4 linked regions of the Homo sapiens genome follow. The protein of the gene in region 1 interacts with the protein of each later gene in a biochemical or structural test. Each region holds a gene or a part of one and is shown on either strand. Other genes may lie near its edges.

Region 1 (4,985 bases):
TCCTGTCTGCCTCACCACACTCTCCCTGTTCTAGGAGGGGTGGGGCAATTTCTTTCAGCTTCCAAACGCCCAGATAGGGTAGGTTACTTGCCTCACATCACACAGGAAACAGATGGGCTGGGTTTGACACACCCCAGCATATTTAATAACCACCTGAGAGTGAAGTCTGGGGGCTGGAAAAGGCAAGACTGACCAGAGGGGGGCTCTGGGCTCTGGGCTGTTTCTCAGCTGACCTGTTTGGAGCACCTCCTGGATTTGGGACCAGATTTTGAATCCCCACTCACCAGTTGTGTGACCATAGGCATCATCACTAGGTCCCCTCAGAGCCTCAGTTTCCTTCTCTGCCACATGGGGCCAGGGCCTACCTCCCAGGGCTGTCATGAGGATTAAATGGTGCCACAGGGGCCAGGCGCAGTGGCTCACACCTGTAATCCCAGCACTTTGGGAGGCCGAGGCGGGCGGATCACCTGAGGTCAGGAGTTTGAGACCAGCCTGGCCAACGTGGTGAAACCCCGTGTCTACTAAAAAAAATACAAAAATTAGCCGGGCATGGTGGCGTACGCCTGTAATCCCAGCTACTTGGGAGGCTGAGGCAGGAGAATCGCTTGAACCTGGGAGGCGGAGGTTGCAGTGAGCTGCGATTGCACTACTGCACTCCAGCCTCAGCAACAGAGCAAAACTCTGTCTAAAAAAAAAAAAAAAAAAAAAAAAAGTGGTGCCACAGGTGCGAGGCACTGAGCCCAGTGCCTGCCATGTGGCAGAGGCTTGGAAGAGAGCAGCTGTTAGCCCCAAGCCCTCGTCTCTGCCCTCGTGGGACTCCCCATTTATTAGGAAGGGCAGGCCTGTGTGTAAATAGTCCCTGCAGTGGGACAAGTGCTACAATGAAGGCTGAAGTGGAGGCAGCAGTCATTCTGCCTGGCAAGGTCAGGGGAGGGGTCCCAGAGTGGGGCAGGGCAAGGATAGCCACCATCTCTGGGTTGCATGCTTTCCCAGACTTTGTCTCCTTCCACCCTTGCAGCAACTCTGGGAAGTCAGTGTAACTACCCCACCCCATGTTACAGATGGGGAAACTGAGTCCTCTCACAGTTGACTAGTTTGTACAAGGTTTGTATCTGGTAGAGCTGGAAGCCACACATGACCCTTCCCTTCTCCCTGGGAGGAGGTGACATTTGAACTAAGTCTTCAGAGATGAAGTGTTTGCCAGGCAGACAGCATGAGGGTCAGAATGCTGGTCCCTGGGAATATTCTGCCTGAGTCATGAGGCGCCATTGCCAGAATACTTGGTCCCTGTGCCTACACCATGAAAGTGGAGGTGGAGGGACCCACCCAGGACTCCTGCCCTACCACCATGGCCTCCATGGCTATTGGGAGCACCTAAGGGTGGGGGTGCCCCACAGAGTCTTTCTCCCAAGCGTGTAAGTTCTGACAGTGCTCCCCCAATCTCCTTTCTCTTTTCCAGAATGGACAGACCTCAGGGGAAGAAGCTGGACTTCAGCCGTCCAAGGTGAGGACCATGGCCAGCACCCTGAGCGAGGGGCTGTGGGGGATCCTGTTTGCATGGCTTTGGAGGAGGTTGAGGGCTCCAGCCTCTAGCCCCTTTGCCCAACTCAGCCGTCCTTCTCAGGGCCCACCGAATCCTTGTGGCAACCCTGGGCATAGAAATCACTTGTTCCAACCTTCCTATTTTGTAGGTGAGGCGACTGTGGCCCAGAAAGGGTCAGGAGCAGAATCCAGGTCAGGGCTCTGGTTACCTGTCACCCAGGCCAGGATGCCCCTGCAGTTTATTTACTCATGGAATTTGGGCTGGCTCTAAGGAGTGATGGGAGGGGCTCAGGCCAGCTGTCCTGCTCCTTTTGGTAGAGCTGCGCTTGCCAAGAGCCTGGAAGTGAGCATCTGGGCACGTGAGCTGGAAAGGGGGTGCTGGTGGCCGCTCAAGGCTAACCAGGCCCATTGCCTGGCATGTGGCACTCATGGCATTTCTTAGGGCTTCCACTTCCCAGTGTGAGGGTCATTCCCTCACCCCTGCTATCTCTGCTTCCCCTGGGCCCCTTCCTGTAGCCCCCTAGCCCCTGTTGCTGGTTTTGTGTTTTGCCAGAAGCACCAGGACTAGGTGACAGTGGTGTGACCTTGGGGAGGTTCCTTGTACACTCTGGGCCTTGGCTTTCTCATCTGTATATTGGAAAAGACCACATCCCCTTCACAGGGTGGCTGTGAGGTCACAGGAGATGCTGGCTATGGAGGGTCTTTGGAAGCTGCTTAGGCAGGGACAGAGCATGGTGTTAGAGCAAATCCGGGTTCCAGTCCTGGCTCCATCCCCACCATTTAACCAGAAGCTCTTCTCCCTTCTGAGTCTCAGTTTCCTGAGCTGTAAGTTGGGGAAACAGTGTCTGTCTCACAGGAGCAATGTGAAGGACGATGAGATAGTAACTGCCTGGCACATGGCAGCTTCGGTGCCAGCACCGAAAATGTCCTAGTATATTGCTCAGCTCAGCTTCCTGCCAGTGACCCCACCTTCCAGACCTAGGTTGGCTTGAACACCAGACCTGCCATAAGCTTGACCTTTGAGATGGATGCAGGATTAGTCCTGATGTTTACCTTGACTCAGCTTCCTAAGATGAGGTGACTGAGCTGGGTAGGATAGGGCAGGTGAGGGAAGTATTCTCGCACCACTTCTCTGTGGGTTGCTGTGGCAACCTTGGACCAGCAGAGGCCAGTAAATAGTGTGGACTGGGCCCCTTGGTTTAGCTCAGCCCATGTCTGCAGAATCTCCTCCCACAAAGTAGCTACCTCTTGTTGCCTAGTAACAAAATGAAGAACTGTAGGTTCCCAGTGAAGAAACACGGTGTTCAGATCTCAGGGCTGAGGTTCTGGGGGTTGCAGAGGAGCTTGCAGCATTTAGGGACCTGTGCTGAGTACAGCTTCTCACCTCAAGAACTGGAGGAGCTTACTGGGAGATGGCAGGAGCTTGCCGAGGCAGGTAACCTTTTGCTCCCAAGCCTATGACTCTTGCTCTAGAGCAGAAGATCCTGGGGTAGGAAGAGAGACAGGGCTGGAGATGGATGGGACATGGAGTCTCGAATGCCACTTAAGGAAGAGAAAGAGCTTAACCTATGCCTAGCATCATACCAGGTGCTTTGCATTTAGTTCTAACTACATCCTTGGAGGTAGATTGTTACTGTCCCCATTTTACAGATGAGAAAATTGAGGTTCAACATCACATAGCTGGTGGGCAATGAAGACAAGTCTTGTTTGGCTTCAAGGTCATTCCTCATAGTCCAGAGAACCCTGAGTGCTGAAGAGGAGGAGCACTGGCTTTCTGTGATTCCAAGTGGGACCAGTCCTGGGCACCTGCTCATCCATCTGTTGTCCCAGCCACCAGTGTCCCTAATGCCCACTTCTGGGCTTAATACACCAGGGGGCGCTCAACCTGTGGTCCGGACCTCATCACTTTGTGCAGTGGAATGAGCTGGCAATGGGCCACTTTATCCTAATCAGACATTCGGTGCACCCTGTTGTTCACAGGAGGGCCTAAAATGAAGTCAATATCCCCCACCTTCGAGAAGCTTCCAATCTTTGGGCAGAGGGTAGAGACAGGAAAGCCATGTGGTAGGCGCTATGATGGGGCAAGAGCACAGCTGTGGGCACATAGAACCTCTGCTCTGTGCTAGGCCCATGTTGGGCAGAGACGTATACCACCACCTTCCAGGTGCCCACATTTCTCTCCGTAGCATGACGAGATGAGCACGTCCCCGGGAACCCAGCTGATGGCATCTGAGTTCAGGGCTGAGTGTGGACCAGAGACATGGTCATTGCCGTGCATGGCCGAGGAAGAAGAGTTGGGGTGGGCTCTAGGGCACAGGCCATGTTCCCTGCGGAACTGGCATTTGGCTGGGACTCAAAAGGCAGGATTTGGGCAGCTGGAGAAAGAATTGGGCCTTCCAGGTGGCAAAGAGGCAGGGAAGAGAGTCAGGGATTCTGAGTTCAGAATCCTGCACCTATTTTTTATTTGCCTTGTAACCTTGGGCAAGTCATTTGCCTTGCTGAGGCTCGGGTTCTTTCCTGAAAAATGAAAGGAGAATAAAGCCTATTTCTCAGGGCTACCTGGAAAAGAGAATGTGGTACATATAAATTAAAGTATCTAACAGGGCTTGTGGCACAATGTTGCTGTTTAATGCTTGTTTATTTTATTCATTTCAGGCAGAAAGCGGGATTTGGGATTTGGGATTTGGCTTTTAGCAGCAATAGTGTGGATAGCCATCCAGGGTGAGAACTCTCTGGATCCCCTCAGCACCTAGGTGCACGTGGTACCCTAAGGCACACCGGGGCTCCATTTGCCCTCCCTCCCTTCTGGGAGTGGACTGGGCATCCCAGGCCCCCTCCCCCAGCTATCTCCGGAGCTGGACCCCTTTGAAGCGCCTGCAGGTCTATTTTGAGAGCTGAGCGTCTCCCCTCCCCTCCTCTCTTCCTGTTTATGAAACCCTGATCCCTCCCGGATCCCTCATGCTCCCCTGGCCAGAGCTTAGGCAGGATGTGACTGTGGACTTCAGGGAGCCTTGGGCAGCCTCAGGTGTTGGGAGGAACTTCCCTTGGCCTGGTCAGAGAAGGCCAGCCACCCTCCTAGTACCTGGGGCCCTGTGGCTGGGCTCTGTCCCTTCAGCCTGCCCAGGGGAGACCCCACAGCAGTAAGACTAAGTAAACCTGGGAGAAGTTCTGTTTCCAACATCCCCTTGTCTCTGTGGCCCATTTTGCTTCTAGAAACAATCTGAGAGTGGAGCATATTGTTCTAACCTTCATTTTACAGAGGAGGAAACCGAGGTTCAGACAGGGAAACAGATTTGCCCGGGAGCACCCAGCTAGTGAGTGGCCAGCTCTTCCTGACTTCCCACTCTACCCTCCTGGCCTTAAGCCCCTTGGTCACACAGGTCTTTCTCTACCTGGAGTGTCTTTTTTTCCTCCTTTCTGCCTGGCCAACATTTGTTCATCCT
Region 2 (4,789 bases), on another chromosome or scaffold:
TAATTCCCCAACAGGGAAAGAGCCTAGAAACTCCCTCCACCTCCCGCAAAGCAGTGGGGAAGTTGCGGCCACACTGTTTTCGGTCCGCTCATTCCCTCTGCAGTCTGGCTGCTCAGGGGGATGGAGGAGGATGGGGCTTGCAGGCAGGCACAGCCGGTTTGGAAGGTGTCCTGGCTCCAGCACTCAACTTGTGGCATGACACTCAGGGGAGTCACCCTTTCTGGCCCTCAGTTTTCTCCTCTGTAAAATAAGGAAATTCGACAAAAATAAGTTATCACCAATTTATTCACCACCACGTGTCCTTTTAATTCCATCTGCCCCAGGACTGCAGTGGGGAGTCTTTCTTTGCCGATGGACTTCGAAAATCATCACCCCCCGCATTTTTTGTGGTTAACCACAGCTAGCCAGGAACTCAGGGCTTCTCATCAGCAGAGGCCTCTGCCTCTCCAGTATCCAGGGCCGAATGGATTTTGGGTCAAGGCCTCCCTCCCGCAGCCAGGAGGCCCTGGCTTTATGGAATATCGCTTGGAGTCCAGGGAGTCAGCATGGGGACCCCGACAGCTTTCCCATGCCCCAGGCTCCTGGGCCTTTCTGGGGGACCCCTCTGGACCTTGGGCATTAACAAGGTTCATATTTGGAAGGTGCTTTGAGGGGGCTTATAGGTATTTGGAGTTTACTTTTTAAACTATTTGTATTGGAAAAATAACGTGTGCACAAGGGAACAACCCAAATACAGAAGAATATTAAAATCCCCAAGCCCCCAGCCCCCTCCCATGCTACTCTATCCCAAAGTCAGCTCTGCCGGCTCACCCAACCCTGGGTGCCTCTGCCCAGGGTGGGGGTGGAGGTTTGAGGGTTCGGGATGAGGGCTGGACGAAGGGCCTCCTCTCAGGTCCTTGGACACGAGCTGTGCCCATCTGCTCAGTGTGGACCCAGGACTACTGCCCACAGGCCTGGTGCTGCCTGGGCACCCAGACCCACCTCCAGGGTCGCCCTCAGCCCTCCTGATGACTCTCGGACTCGCATCTGTCCCAACGGATGCACCAAAGATTCTCCAGTGGGAAATCAAATTTTTGATAACAAGTGTTTTGAAATAATCACGCACTTGGTGAAAAATCAAAAGAGGGGAAAACCCCTTTCCCATCTGAGACCGCTCCACCCTCGCCAGTTACGAGCTGCCGAGCCGCTTCCTAGGCTCTCTGCGAATACGGACACGCATGCCACCCACAACAACTTTTTAAAAGAATCAGACGTGTGAAGGATTCTATTCGAATTACTTCTGCTCTCTGCTTTTATCACTTCACTGTGGGTCTGGGCGCGGGCTTTCTGCCAGCTCCGCGGACGCTGCCTTCGTCCGGCCGCAGAGGCCCCGCGGTCAGGGTCCCGCGTGCGGGGTACCGGGGGCAGAACCAGCGCGTGACCGGGGTCCGCGGTGCCGCAACGCCCCGGGTCTGCGCAGAGGCCCCTGCAGTCCCTGCCCGGCCCAGTCCGAGCTTCCCGGGCGGGCCCCCAGTCCGGCGATTTGCAGGAACTTTCCCCGGCGCTCCCACGCGAAGCCGCCGCAGGGCCCCCTTGCAAAGTTCCATTAGTTTGAAGGACGCGAATCTCAGCGAGAGAACCTGCGGAAAGCGAATATGTGGGGCGCGCAGACGGGGAAACTGAGTCCCGCGAGAGGGCCGGCCTGTGCGCTGCCCCGCCCGCGCCCCGCCAGCACCGCCGTGCCCGGGCGCGCCCGCCCTGCCCCCTCCGCGGGCGGTCCCGGTCCAGCCGCCCGCCCTCCCTCCCGCCATCCGGCCAGCCCCCATCCCGGGCGCCGTGCCCGTCCCCAAGGCGGCTCGTCACCGCTGCGAGGCCAATGGGCTGGGCCGCGCGGCCGCGCGCACTCGCACCCGCTGCCCCCGAGGCCCTCCTGCACTCTCCCCGGCGCCGCTCTCCGGCCCTCGCCCTGTCCGCCGCCACCGCCGCCGCCGCCAGAGTCGCCATGCAGATCCCGCGCGCCGCTCTTCTCCCGCTGCTGCTGCTGCTGCTGGCGGCGCCCGCCTCGGCGCAGCTGTCCCGGGCCGGCCGCTCGGCGCCTTTGGCCGCCGGGTGCCCAGACCGCTGCGAGCCGGCGCGCTGCCCGCCGCAGCCGGAGCACTGCGAGGGCGGCCGGGCCCGGGACGCGTGCGGCTGCTGCGAGGTGTGCGGCGCGCCCGAGGGCGCCGCGTGCGGCCTGCAGGAGGGCCCGTGCGGCGAGGGGCTGCAGTGCGTGGTGCCCTTCGGGGTGCCAGCCTCGGCCACGGTGCGGCGGCGCGCGCAGGCCGGCCTCTGTGTGTGCGCCAGCAGCGAGCCGGTGTGCGGCAGCGACGCCAACACCTACGCCAACCTGTGCCAGCTGCGCGCCGCCAGCCGCCGCTCCGAGAGGCTGCACCGGCCGCCGGTCATCGTCCTGCAGCGCGGAGCCTGCGGCCAAGGTACTCCGCCGCGCTCCTGGGCAGCTCCCCACTCTCTCCATCCCAGCTCGGACCTGCTTCTGCGGGACTGGTGGGCAGGTTGAGGGGCAGCGAAGCGTTGTGGGGTGGCCAGGGCAACTCTCGGGGACAGGCAGGTGGGCCCCGGGGTGGCGGATTTCCGCGGGCTGCCTCGGAACCGAGCTTCGCGCCCAGCCCGGGGCCGGTTCTGCGCCCAGACGATGCCAGTACGCCCGGCCTGCACTCTGGGGCTCGAGACGCCGGGCGACCGGCCATGGAGTGCCCTGAGGGCAACCACACAGCGCGGGGACCCCAGGACAAATAAGAGGAATGGGGGCATAAAGGAAGGAGAGAAGTTCAGGACTGGGAATTGGCGCCTCGCAGAGCGGCTTCAGGACCACAAGAAGTCATTTCGGTTGCTTTTTCTTCTATTTACGTCCTCCGTCCCCTTTAAAATTCACTGCTTTGATCACGGGACCGCTCAGTGAAAACTGTATGTAACTCTTTTGGAAAGGAACAGTGTTTGCCGGCCCGCCCCGGAGTTTCTCCAAAAAGTCTACCCCGAGCAGGGAACGGTTTGGCACCGCTCTCGTTTCGGCGGCGTTGCTGCCTGTCTTGCTTTCCTCGTTTTGAGCCAGCCCTACAAAAATGAAAGTGGCTCCTTTTGAATAAGCTGAATCGGGCTTTGGATCACGAAATCTGCAGAGGCGGAGAAGGGACCGGGTTAGTGATGAGGAAGAAGTCTACCCCTCTGTTCCTACAGCCGCACACAGGACCTGTTCTGGCAGGGGAGACGGTGGTGATGGGGGAAGGAGTGGAATGGAGCAATGTCTAACTCTCTCGCGGGACCTTCCGGAGAGATGCTCCTCATCTTCAGGCAGAGGCCATGTGGAAAAATAATATCGAGTTCAGCAGCGGCCAGCCCCGCGTTGTAGGAACCAGACAGCGGGGCTTGGCAGTGCGCTTGGGCGCAGCCGTGCCGCTGCTGCCGGACCCCAGTGCTGCCTCCTCAACACGGGCAGTGCCAGGAGAGGGGCATAGGGGAGCACAGTGCAGAGGGACTGGTCTAGAGTTTACTTTATAGGAATATGGTTCGGTGTGACCAACTAGGGCTTAGCATAGTTTGGCTTACGTGGACGGGAAGATGCCAGAGCCGAACTGGGTGAAATTCGAGATTGCGTATTTCACCAACACAGGAGCACAGCCCTCGGGAAACTCAGCCTAGTCAGGCAGTAGAGAGTTGTCCCGGAGAGAAGTGATCCTGCAGACTCGAGAAGGGGCATGATGATAGCACACGTCTGTTGAGCACCCAGTCTGTGTGCCGGGTGTGTTACCTCTGTGACCTCATTTGGTCAAACGAGGAGGCAGTTGCTCCTCTCTCTCTCTTTTTTTTTCTTAAGAGACAGGGTCTCCCTCTGTCGCCCATGCTGGAGTGTAGTGGTGTGATCATGGCTCACTGCAGCCTCCGACCCCTGGGCTCAATGATTCTCCTGCTTCAGCCTCCCAAGTGGCTGGGACTACAGGCGGATGCCACCACACCCAGCTTCTCATTCCCGTTTTACAGATAGCGGAGCTAAGGTTGAAAAACTTGCCCAAGGTCATTCAGCTGGAATTTAAACCCAGACAGCCTCATTCAGAGGAGTCAGCCCAGCACTTAACTCCAAGGGTGTGGGAGAGGGGTCAGGTGCTGTAAATTTCCTGGTGGGCTGGACGTGCATCCCCCTCAGAGCTGGGAACAGCATACACAAAGCCTAAGACTTGTTTGGAGGTGAATAGATCAGTGTGGCTGGGGAACGTTTTGGGAGGGCAGCAGGAGTGAGCCAGGCTGGTGGCCCAGAGTCCCAGGGCTGAAGAGGCTGGCTGTGCCCCGTGCCCTGTGCGCAGATGTTCTTGAACTGGAGCAACTCAAAGCCTAGTGTAGTGTAGGGCTGACCTAGCAGTGGAGTGCGGAATGCATCCAGGGTGGAGAGTTTAGACTACTGCAATAATCTGGGTGTGAGGCGACAACATTGAAAAAGCATGTTTTTGTCCAAAACAAGCCAGCTGTTACTGGTCTCGCTGTTTGTGGTCTCATCGCACGGGGTCCTGAGTTGCTGGCACCATGCGAGCCGCCTAATTTATTGCTAGTGAGGCAAGTTGCTTAACAAGTTTTGGAGTTGGCTGAGTCCCTGTGTGGAGGAAAACAGGTCCCCCATTGGCCATCGGGCTCACAGCGGGCCCCCGGTGTACCAGTGAGGGGACAGCCACAGAGGGATAAGCATGGTGGCTTTGAAAGGAGGGAGAGACAGAGTGGGTACAATGCTTTTCTTATCCCTCCCTCCTTCTTTTGCAAATATTTA
Region 3 (4,542 bases), on another chromosome or scaffold:
GGTCAGTGTGAAACAAGTAATCCTTATGAACATCAAGGCAATTCTTTCACTCTGATGAAGCAGTTAAATAGTGAAGGTCATGGGGCTTTAGCAGCCACATAAAAGAAAGAAGGAAAGCAATTAGACAAAATGGATGCTGTAATCCCACTTTCCAGGCCCCAGAGTCTCGCTGAATACAGAGCTCCTGCTTTACTGTTCAGAACTCTCCCGCTTCACTGTTCAGAAACTGGAAGCAGATTCCAAATGAGAATTCCATAGCTTGATTCCACTCTCACCAAAAGCTGACTGCGTGTTTCTTAGGAATGTCTATAGCCTTGGGAGGTAAAAATAAAATAAAATAAAATCAATGGATGATGCTATGAACTTTACACCCAGTTTGGAATTCCAAAAATATTCCTCCATTGCTCAGGACTGTTGCTGAATCCTACCCAGCCAGGTTTGCTGTACTGCAGGGAATGAATGTCCAGATCTATGGATCGCCAGGGTTTTCCAATCAAGTGGGAATCCAAGGACCAGCATGGACTAGCAGCATTGGCATCACTTGGAAGTGCTTTCAGTATGGAGATTCTCAGAACCCGCCCCAGACCCACTGTATCAGAACCGCAACCACATTAAAATGTGAGAAACACTGACCTACAGGACCCTACAGGGCACTTTTGTTTTGTTTTGTTTTCTGTTTTGTTTTTATCCTTCTTCTAGCCTGAGTTTCCTCAATGGAAAGATGACAGAGTGTACACACAAAACAAACCAAAACTGAAGGAGGGCAGTTGTTGACATGATCATGGGGGTGATGAGTCTTCTCCCAGTTCTAACTTCTGCAGTCAGCATCGCTTCTTTTGTAATCACGGGAAAATAATTTTCAAATGGAGCTAACCCTCTCACAACATTGTACTAATGATCTTTAAAGCGACGGATTTAGAAGCGCTCAGCACCACGCTTGCCACACTGCAGGGCAGACACTTCAGAGGTGTTAGGTGAAGTGGATGGAGCCAGCACGCTGGCCTCTCCCACTCCGACAGCTGGCGAGCAGCTCTTGTCCACCAAAACTTCCCCGGGTAGATTCACCCACCGGTCCTGGAAACCTGCTAAATCCTGAAGGTTCACAGAACCTCTGGTCAGAACTGAAGTTGCAGCCGGAGCTTCCCGCAGGCTCTGTAACTTTCCCTGGAATGAAATAAATAAATAAAGACCGTAAGTGCTGAGATAGCGGGCCCCAAGATATTTTTAGTCCTCTGCAATCAGCCACTAGAGGAAGGGGGAGGGAGAAGGGAGTAAAAAAGTTTTGATCCGTTCGGGAAGGGGCTCGAAGAGAACCCTTGGGAGAAAGCAGTAGCCTCAGCTCCAAACTCAGCGAGCTTTTCTCGGCTGGCGTTTTGTCTCCTATAGCGTAGACTGTAAGAGAACAGAAAGGAGTTTCCCGAGAAGATTCAGGCTGGCGTCCTGGGCTGGCCCGTCCCTTCTGGCGAGCCTCAGTGTCCTCCCACGCGCTTCTGCCTTCCAGCCTCCTCCCTTTTTCGGGGGGCTGGCGGGAGGCATCCAAGGCACGATGTATGTGCGCTCGCGCTCGCGCAAATACGGCCGGAGGAGTCCTGTTCCTCGGGCATTTTCCGAGGAAGTCTGGATCAATTAGGCTCAGTCCGGGGAGAGCCAGCGAGCGCGCGGGCGGCGTAGCCGGCCTGTCTGGGCCGCCTCGTGGGGAGGGAGGGGGCGCCCGGCCGCCCGGCGGCGACCCCGGGGCCTGGCCGCCACCATGGGCTTCGAGCTGGACCGCTTCGACGGCGACGTGGACCCGGACCTGAAGTGCGCGCTGTGCCACAAGGTCCTGGAGGACCCGCTGACCACGCCGTGCGGCCACGTCTTCTGCGCCGGCTGCGTGCTGCCCTGGGTGGTGCAGGAGGGCAGCTGCCCGGCGCGCTGCCGCGGTCGCCTGTCGGCCAAAGAGCTCAACCACGTCCTGCCGCTCAAGCGCCTTATCCTCAAGCTGGACATCAAGTGCGCGTACGCGACGCGCGGCTGCGGCCGGGTGGTCAAGCTGCAGCAGCTGCCGGAGCACCTCGAGCGCTGCGACTTCGCGCCCGCGCGCTGTCGCCACGCGGGTTGCGGCCAGGTGCTGCTGCGGCGCGACGTGGAGGCGCACATGCGCGACGCCTGCGACGCGCGGCCAGTGGGCCGCTGCCAGGAGGGCTGCGGGCTACCCTTGACGCACGGCGAGCAGCGCGCGGGCGGCCACTGCTGCGCGCGAGCGCTGCGGGCGCACAACGGCGCGCTCCAGGCCCGCCTGGGCGCGCTGCACAAGGCGCTCAAGAAGGAGGCGCTGCGCGCTGGGAAGCGCGAGAAGTCGCTGGTGGCCCAGCTGGCCGCGGCGCAGCTTGAGCTGCAGATGACCGCGCTGCGCTACCAGAAGAAATTCACCGAATACAGCGCGCGCCTCGACTCGCTCAGCCGCTGCGTGGCCGCGCCGCCCGGCGGCAAGGTAGGCGCCTGCTGCCCGCCCCGACCTCCAGCCAGGATCCCTGGGGACCCAGGGCCCCGCCCCATCCCTTTGGGTACAGGGATGCCCCGAGCTTCCCGGGAACATCCTTGCTTCCTCCCTCTTCTTCCACTGCTTACCAGCTGTATCACTACTTGCAGGTCGCTGAACCTGCCTGAGGTGGAACACTGTGGTCCTTTATAGTCTAGACGTAACCGGTAAAGTATAGCTGTACAGCTTCAGGGATTCTGGAAGGACGAAAAAGAATTCACAAGCAAGTGTAGGATAAGAATGAAGAATGCAGCTCCAGAGTCAAAACTGCGTTCAAAGGCTTTGCTGCTCAGACCAGCTAGGGGATCTCGGGCAAGTTGCTTACCCTCTAGAGGTCAGAAACCTATAGACTGACACTTAGGAGAGGAGAGATGGACACATTGGGTGAATTGTATCCGTGCATCCTCTAGGATTCCAGAAAAAAAAATAAAGGGAACCCACAGCCAGTGTAGATTAAGTTAAGAAGGATATCAGAAGAGAGGCCTCTGGGGTAAAAGCTGGATGCAAGCGTGGGCTTTGCAGCCAACTAGCTGGCTGACCTTGAGCAAGCTGCTTAACCTCTCTAAAGTTGGAAACTATGGTCCCTAGAGACGTGGTATACAGAGTAAAAACACAGCCAGGCACCCCTGAGGTATTCATCCAGGGATTTCAGAAAGAATTAAAGGAGCACTCTGCCCCCAACAAGTATAAAGTAATAATTAAGTGTGAGTCCTCTGGAGTTAAAACTGTTTTCAAATCTGGGCTTTTTGCTGACCAGCTGGGTGAGCTTCTGGCTTAATTCCCAGATCCCTCAGTTTCCCTCAGTGCGAAAGGTTTTTGTCAGGCTTCAGGGAGAGAGTTTAGTAGAAGGGCCTCGTACTGTGCCTGGCAGAGAGTAAATAAATGCTCAACAAGTGTTACCTAGAATTATTTTTAACATCTCCACCTGAGCGGTCCCCTTGAGCGAGGGTTTACTTTGCTCCAGGCTGGGTGCTGCATTCTTCCCAGTCATTTCCTTTTTAATCAAGTGAGGTTGGTGTGACCCTTCCCACTTAGTAGATGAAAAAACTGAGGCTCATTAAGGGGCAGTTTCATGCCTGGGTCACAGCTTTTGGGTGCAAAGCTGCATGTTGAACCTTTGCGTGCCCATCTTTCCAGCCCACGTTCTATAAACTATCATGTTGCTCCTCAGTGCAACCACAAGGACCATTTATTGAGTGTTTATTAAGTGCCACCAACAATAGGAAGTACTTTACATGCATTACCTATGTTGTCCTTTGAGATGAGGGAACAGACTCAGAGAAGTTATATAACTTGTCCAAAATTAAGTAGTGACTCAGGGAGCAGAGCCGGACTCAGATTCTACCTCAGAGTTCTCAGTTTTGGGGCATATTGGCATTTTGGGCCCCATAACTCTTAGTTGGGAGGGGAGGTACTGTGCTGTGCATTGTAGGATGTTTAGCAGCATTCTTGGCCTCCCTCCCAAGTCGTGACAATCCAAATATTGTCAAGTGTCCTCTGGAGGGGCAAAGTCGCCCAGGTTGAGAACCACTGGTTTCCCTGATTGCAGAAGCCACATTTTCAACAGCTGGGTACTTCTGCCTTCCTGGGGAGGGGCCTGGGCCTGCTGCCACCGCTCTGGTTGCCTGCTCCAGATGGTGTGGCAGAAAGGGGAAAATATTTGCCCGAGGCTCCCCCAAGGGCCTGTGTCTGCTTTGCCTCTCTCTGCCCTCTCCCAGCCCCCTTTCCTTACGTGCACACCAGGCCTGCAAGTTTTCCGACCTGGCCCCCCTTCCTGGCCCCTGGCCTGTCTGTCAGCTGCAGTCTCAGCAGCTGGCCAGCTCTGGGCGAAGGGCAAATATTTACAGCTCCACAGCTTGCCCAGGACCTCACAGGCACACAAAAGACTGGTGTGAGCCTTCGAATCACCAAAACAGAGGGCAAAGCTTGGTCTTCAATCAGGCGCCAGATTTAGGGTGAAGGAGTTCCCGAGTTTCTGCTGTTTATGCTGTCATCTGGACTTCCTTCGTCGTTTTAAGTGA
Region 4 (4,041 bases), on another chromosome or scaffold:
GTTCAAGGGATTCTCCTGCTTCAGCCTCCCAAGTAGCTGGGATTACAGGCACCTGCCACCACGCCTGGCTCATTTTGCGTTTTTAGTGGAGATGGGGTTTCACCATGTTGGCCAGGCTGGTTTCAAACTTTTGACCTCAAGTGATCCACCCACCTCAGCCTCCCAAAGTGCTGGGATTACAGGCATGAGCCACCGTGCCCAGCCTCATTATTTTTACTGTGTGGCTTGGGCTTCAGTCTCCTCACCTGTAAGATGGGACAGTAGCAGCAGTATGTACTCTGAGGGGCTGAGAGAGGGGCCGGGCTGAGGCAGAGTGCCTATGAGCCCTGTCCCTCTGTGTCCCCTGCCACAGGCCTATGAACGCTCTGAGAGCTTGGAGGTGGCCTTCGTTACTCAGCTGGTGAAGAAGTTGCTTATTATCATCTCACGCCCTGCGAGGCTGCTGGAGTGCCTGGTGAGGGGGCTGGGCATGGGTAGGGGTGGGTTGGTAGACCCTGGGAGCCTGTGGTGAGCCCACTCCTGCCCTGCCTCAGGAATTCAACCCCGAGGAGTTCTACCACCTGCTGGAGGCGGCCGAAGGACACGCCAAGGAGGGCCACCTTGTGAAGACGGACATCCCCCGCTACATCATCCGCCAGCTGGGCCTCACCCGTGACCCCTTTCCAGGTGCCGGCTGGTGGGCGCAGGGGGACTGGGGGTGAGCAGGCCCAGAACCCAGCTCGTGCTCACTCTCAGTCCCTCCCTAGATGTGGTGCATCTGGAGGAACAGGACAGTGGTGGTTCCAACACCCCTGAGCAAGACGATCTCTCTGAGGTAAGGCTGGGTGGCTAAGCGGTCAGTACCCTGGTTCCTGGGAGGGCAGGGTGGGGCTCATCTCCGGCTTCTTTGCCCTCAGGCTTTGTGGATCTCTTGGTCCTACACTCTGAGCCTCAGTTTTCCCATCCATAAAATGGGATTAATAATAGCTCTTCCAGAGCCTGGCATGCTGGCTCATGCCTGTAATCCCAGCACTTTGGGAGGCCAAGGTGGGCAGATCACCTGAGGTCGGGAGTTCGAGACCAGCCTAACCAACATGGAGAAACCCCGTTTCTACTTAAAAAAAAAAAAAATGCAAAAATTAGCCAAGCCTGGTGGCACATGCCTCTAATCCCAGCTACTTGTGAGGCTGAGGCAGAAGAATCACTTGAATCCAGGAGGCAGAGATTGCTGTGAACTGAGATTACACCACTGCACTCCAGCCTGGGCAACAAGAGCGAAACTGTCTCAAAAAATAAAATAAAATAAAATAAAATAATTGCTCTTCCCCTGTGACCTCTTTGTCATGTTAAAATCCATGAAACATAAAATTTAATTTACTTTTTTAACCATTTTATTTTATTTTTATTTATTTATTTATTTATTTTTTGAGATGGAGTTTTGCTCTTGTTGCCCAGGCTGGAGTGCAATGGCACTATCTCAGCTCACCACAACCTCCATCTCCTGGGTTCAAGCAATTCTCCTGCCTCAGCCTCCCGAGTAGCTGGGATTACAGGCATGTAACACCACACCCGGCTAATTTTGTATTTTTAGTAGAGACTAAAATTTCTCCATGTTGGTCAGGCTGGTTGCAAACTCCCAATCTCAGTTGATCTGCCCATCTCGGCCTCCCAAAGTGCTGGGATTACAGGCATGAGCCACCGCGCCCGGCCTTTTTAACCATTTTAAAATGAACAATTCGGGGCCGGGTGCAGTGGCTTAGGCCTGTAATCCCAGCACTTTGGGAGGCCAAGGCAGGAGGATTGTTTGTGCTAAGGCATTTGAGACCAGCCTGGGCAGCATAAAAAATCAGCTGGGCGTGGTGGTGCACCCCTGTAGTCCCAGCTACTCGGGAGGCTGAGGTGGGAGGATCCTATGAGCCCAGGAAGTCAAGGCTTCAGTAAGCCATGATCACACCACTGCACTCCAGCCTGGGCAACAGGGTGAGACCCTGTCTTGAAAAATGAAATTAAAAATAATAAAGAATAGGCCAGGTGCAATGGCTTATGCATGTAATCCTAGTACTTTGGGAGGCCAAGATGGGTGGATCACTTGAGGTCAGGAATTCGAAACCAGCCTGGCCAACATGGTGAAACCCCATTTCCACTAAAAATACAAAAAAATTAGTTGGGCGTGGTGGCACATGCCTGTAATCCCAGCTACTTGGAAGGCTGAGGCAGGAGAATTGCTTGAACCCGGGAGGTGGAGGTTGGTGTGAGCCAAGATCCCACCACTGCACTCCAGCCTGGGCAACAGAGCGAGACTCTGTCTCAAAATAATAATAATAATAATAATAATAATAATAATAATAATGATTAATAGTAATAAATAAACAATTCTGCAGCATTTAGTAATTCACCATGCTGTACAGCCATTAGATCTATGTAGTTGCAGAACTTTTTTATCACCCCCAAAGGGAAACCTCACACCCATTACACACTCCCTCCTCATTCCTCCCTCCCTGCAGTCCCTGGCAACCACTAATCTATTTTCTCTCTCTGTGGAATTGCTTTTTCTGGATATTTCTTTTTTTTTTTTTTTTTGAGACAGAATTTCACTCTTGTTGCCCAGGCTGGAGTGCAATGGCGTGATCTCGGCTCACTGCAACCTCCGCCTCCCAGGTTCAAGCAATTCTCCTCCCTCAGCCTCCTGAGTAGCTGGGATTATAGGCATGCGCCACCACACCTGGCTAATTTTGTATTTTTAGTAAAGACAGGGTTTCACCATGTTGGTCAGGCTGGTCTCGAACTCCTGACCTCAGGTGATCTGCCTGCCTTGGCCTCCCAAAGTGCTGCGATTACAGGCGTGAGCCACATGCCTGGCCTTTTTCTGGATATTTCCTATAAATGGGATCGTATGCTCTGTGGCCTCTTATGACTGGCTTATTTCACTTAACATAACGTTTCTGAGGTTTATCCATGTTGTAGCTTGTGTCACTGCTTCATTCATTTTTATAGCCGAGTAATATTCCATTGAATGGTAGATGCATTCATCCACTGGTGAACATTGGGTTGTCCATCTTTCATCTGTTGTAAATAGTGCTCTTATGAATGTGGGTGTACAAATATTTGGCTGGACAACTGCTTTGAGTTATTTAGGATATACGTCTAGAGGTGGAATTTCTTGGTCATATGGTAGCTCTATGTTTAACTTATAGAGGAATCCTGCATGGGCTTTCGAGCAAGCTAACTGGCTGTATGTGTTAATGGCAGCTCAGCATGGGGAAAATTGCCAATTCTATTCCCAGGCCAGCCACACTTTGGCAGATGTTCCAGATGTCTAGTGGAGAGTCCTACCCCAATGGCCACACATGTGTTTTCTCTGAACTGCCTAGTATTTTTCAAAAATTTGGGCTGGGCCTGATGGCTCACGGCTGTAATCCCAGCACTTTGAGAGACTGCGGCGGGTGGATCACTTGAGGTCAGGAAGTCGAGACCAGCCTGGCCAACATGGTGAAACCCTGTCTCTACTAAAAAAATACATAAAATTAGCCAGGTGTGGTGGTGCCCACCCGTAATCCCAGCTACTTGGGAGGCTGAGGCAGGAGAACTGCTGGAACCAGGGAGACAAAGATTGCAGTGAGCCGATATCAAACCACTGCACTCCAGCCTGGGTGAGAGAGTGAGACTCCATCTTGAAAAAAATAAAAATAGATAAATAAAAGAAGCAAAATATAAAAATTGAAAGATTTTTGCTTCAAAATCTGGGTTTGGGCCTTCTCTTGAAAAATCAGAAGTTCTAGGGCTGGGTGTAGTGGCTCATGCCTGTAGTCCCAGCACTTTGGGAAGCCAAGGTGGCAGGATTGCTTGAGCCCAGGAGTTTGAAACCAGTCTGGACAACATAGCAAGACCCTGTCTCTACTTAAAAAAAAATAGAAGAAGAAGAAGTTCTAATAATACTGTGGTGGAACCAGCTGAGTGGGGGTGGTCCTGTGATATTGGGTACCTGCCCCTTCGTCATCCATGGCCTCCACCCTGGTCTACTGGCCCCTGAAGACGCTTAAGTTTGTAATCTTTATTTCAAAT

The links.
Region 2: the proteins of RPS6KA1 (region 1) and HTRA1 interact in a test that uses a peptide from one of them, tested with the Homo sapiens proteins (2 studies listed by BioGRID and IntAct, with this or other methods).
Region 3: the proteins of RPS6KA1 (region 1) and PDZRN3 interact in a test that uses a peptide from one of them, tested with the Homo sapiens proteins (2 studies listed by BioGRID and IntAct, with this or other methods).
Region 4: the proteins of RPS6KA1 (region 1) and MAST1 interact in a test that uses a peptide from one of them, tested with the Homo sapiens proteins (2 studies listed by BioGRID and IntAct, with this or other methods).

Annotation. Positions count from the first base shown.
Region 1 is NC_000001.11:26,535,466-26,540,450, forward strand, and holds part of RPS6KA1 (ribosomal protein S6 kinase alpha-1), read left to right. Parts: intron 1-1,459; coding exon 1,460-1,504; intron 1,505-4,985. UniProt on the Homo sapiens protein: Serine/threonine-protein kinase that acts downstream of ERK (MAPK1/ERK2 and MAPK3/ERK1) signaling and mediates mitogenic and stress-induced activation of the transcription factors CREB1, ETV1/ER81 and NR4A1/NUR77, regulates translation through RPS6 and EIF4B phosphorylation, and mediates cellular proliferation, survival, and differentiation by modulating mTOR signaling and repressing pro-apoptotic function of BAD and DAPK1.
Region 2 is NC_000010.11:122,459,672-122,464,460, forward strand, and holds the start of HTRA1 (serine protease HTRA1 precursor), read left to right. Parts: upstream 1-1,881; 5' UTR 1,882-1,981; coding exon 1,982-2,453; intron 2,454-4,789. UniProt on the Homo sapiens protein: Serine protease with a variety of targets, including extracellular matrix proteins such as fibronectin. HTRA1-generated fibronectin fragments further induce synovial cells to up-regulate MMP1 and MMP3 production.
Region 3 is NC_000003.12:73,622,034-73,626,575, reverse strand, and holds the start of PDZRN3 (E3 ubiquitin-protein ligase PDZRN3), read left to right. Parts: upstream 1-1,634; 5' UTR 1,635-1,750; coding exon 1,751-2,473; intron 2,474-2,610; exon of another isoform or gene 2,611-3,008; intron 3,009-4,542. UniProt on the Homo sapiens protein: E3 ubiquitin-protein ligase. Plays an important role in regulating the surface level of MUSK on myotubes. Mediates the ubiquitination of MUSK, promoting its endocytosis and lysosomal degradation. Might contribute to terminal myogenic differentiation.
Region 4 is NC_000019.10:12,851,582-12,855,622, forward strand, and holds part of MAST1 (microtubule-associated serine/threonine-protein kinase 1), read left to right. Parts: intron 1-352; coding exon 353-454; intron 455-533; coding exon 534-666; intron 667-678; exon of another isoform or gene 679-746; coding exon 747-814; intron 815-4,041. UniProt on the Homo sapiens protein: Microtubule-associated protein essential for correct brain development. Appears to link the dystrophin/utrophin network with microtubule filaments via the syntrophins. Phosphorylation of DMD or UTRN may modulate their affinities for associated proteins.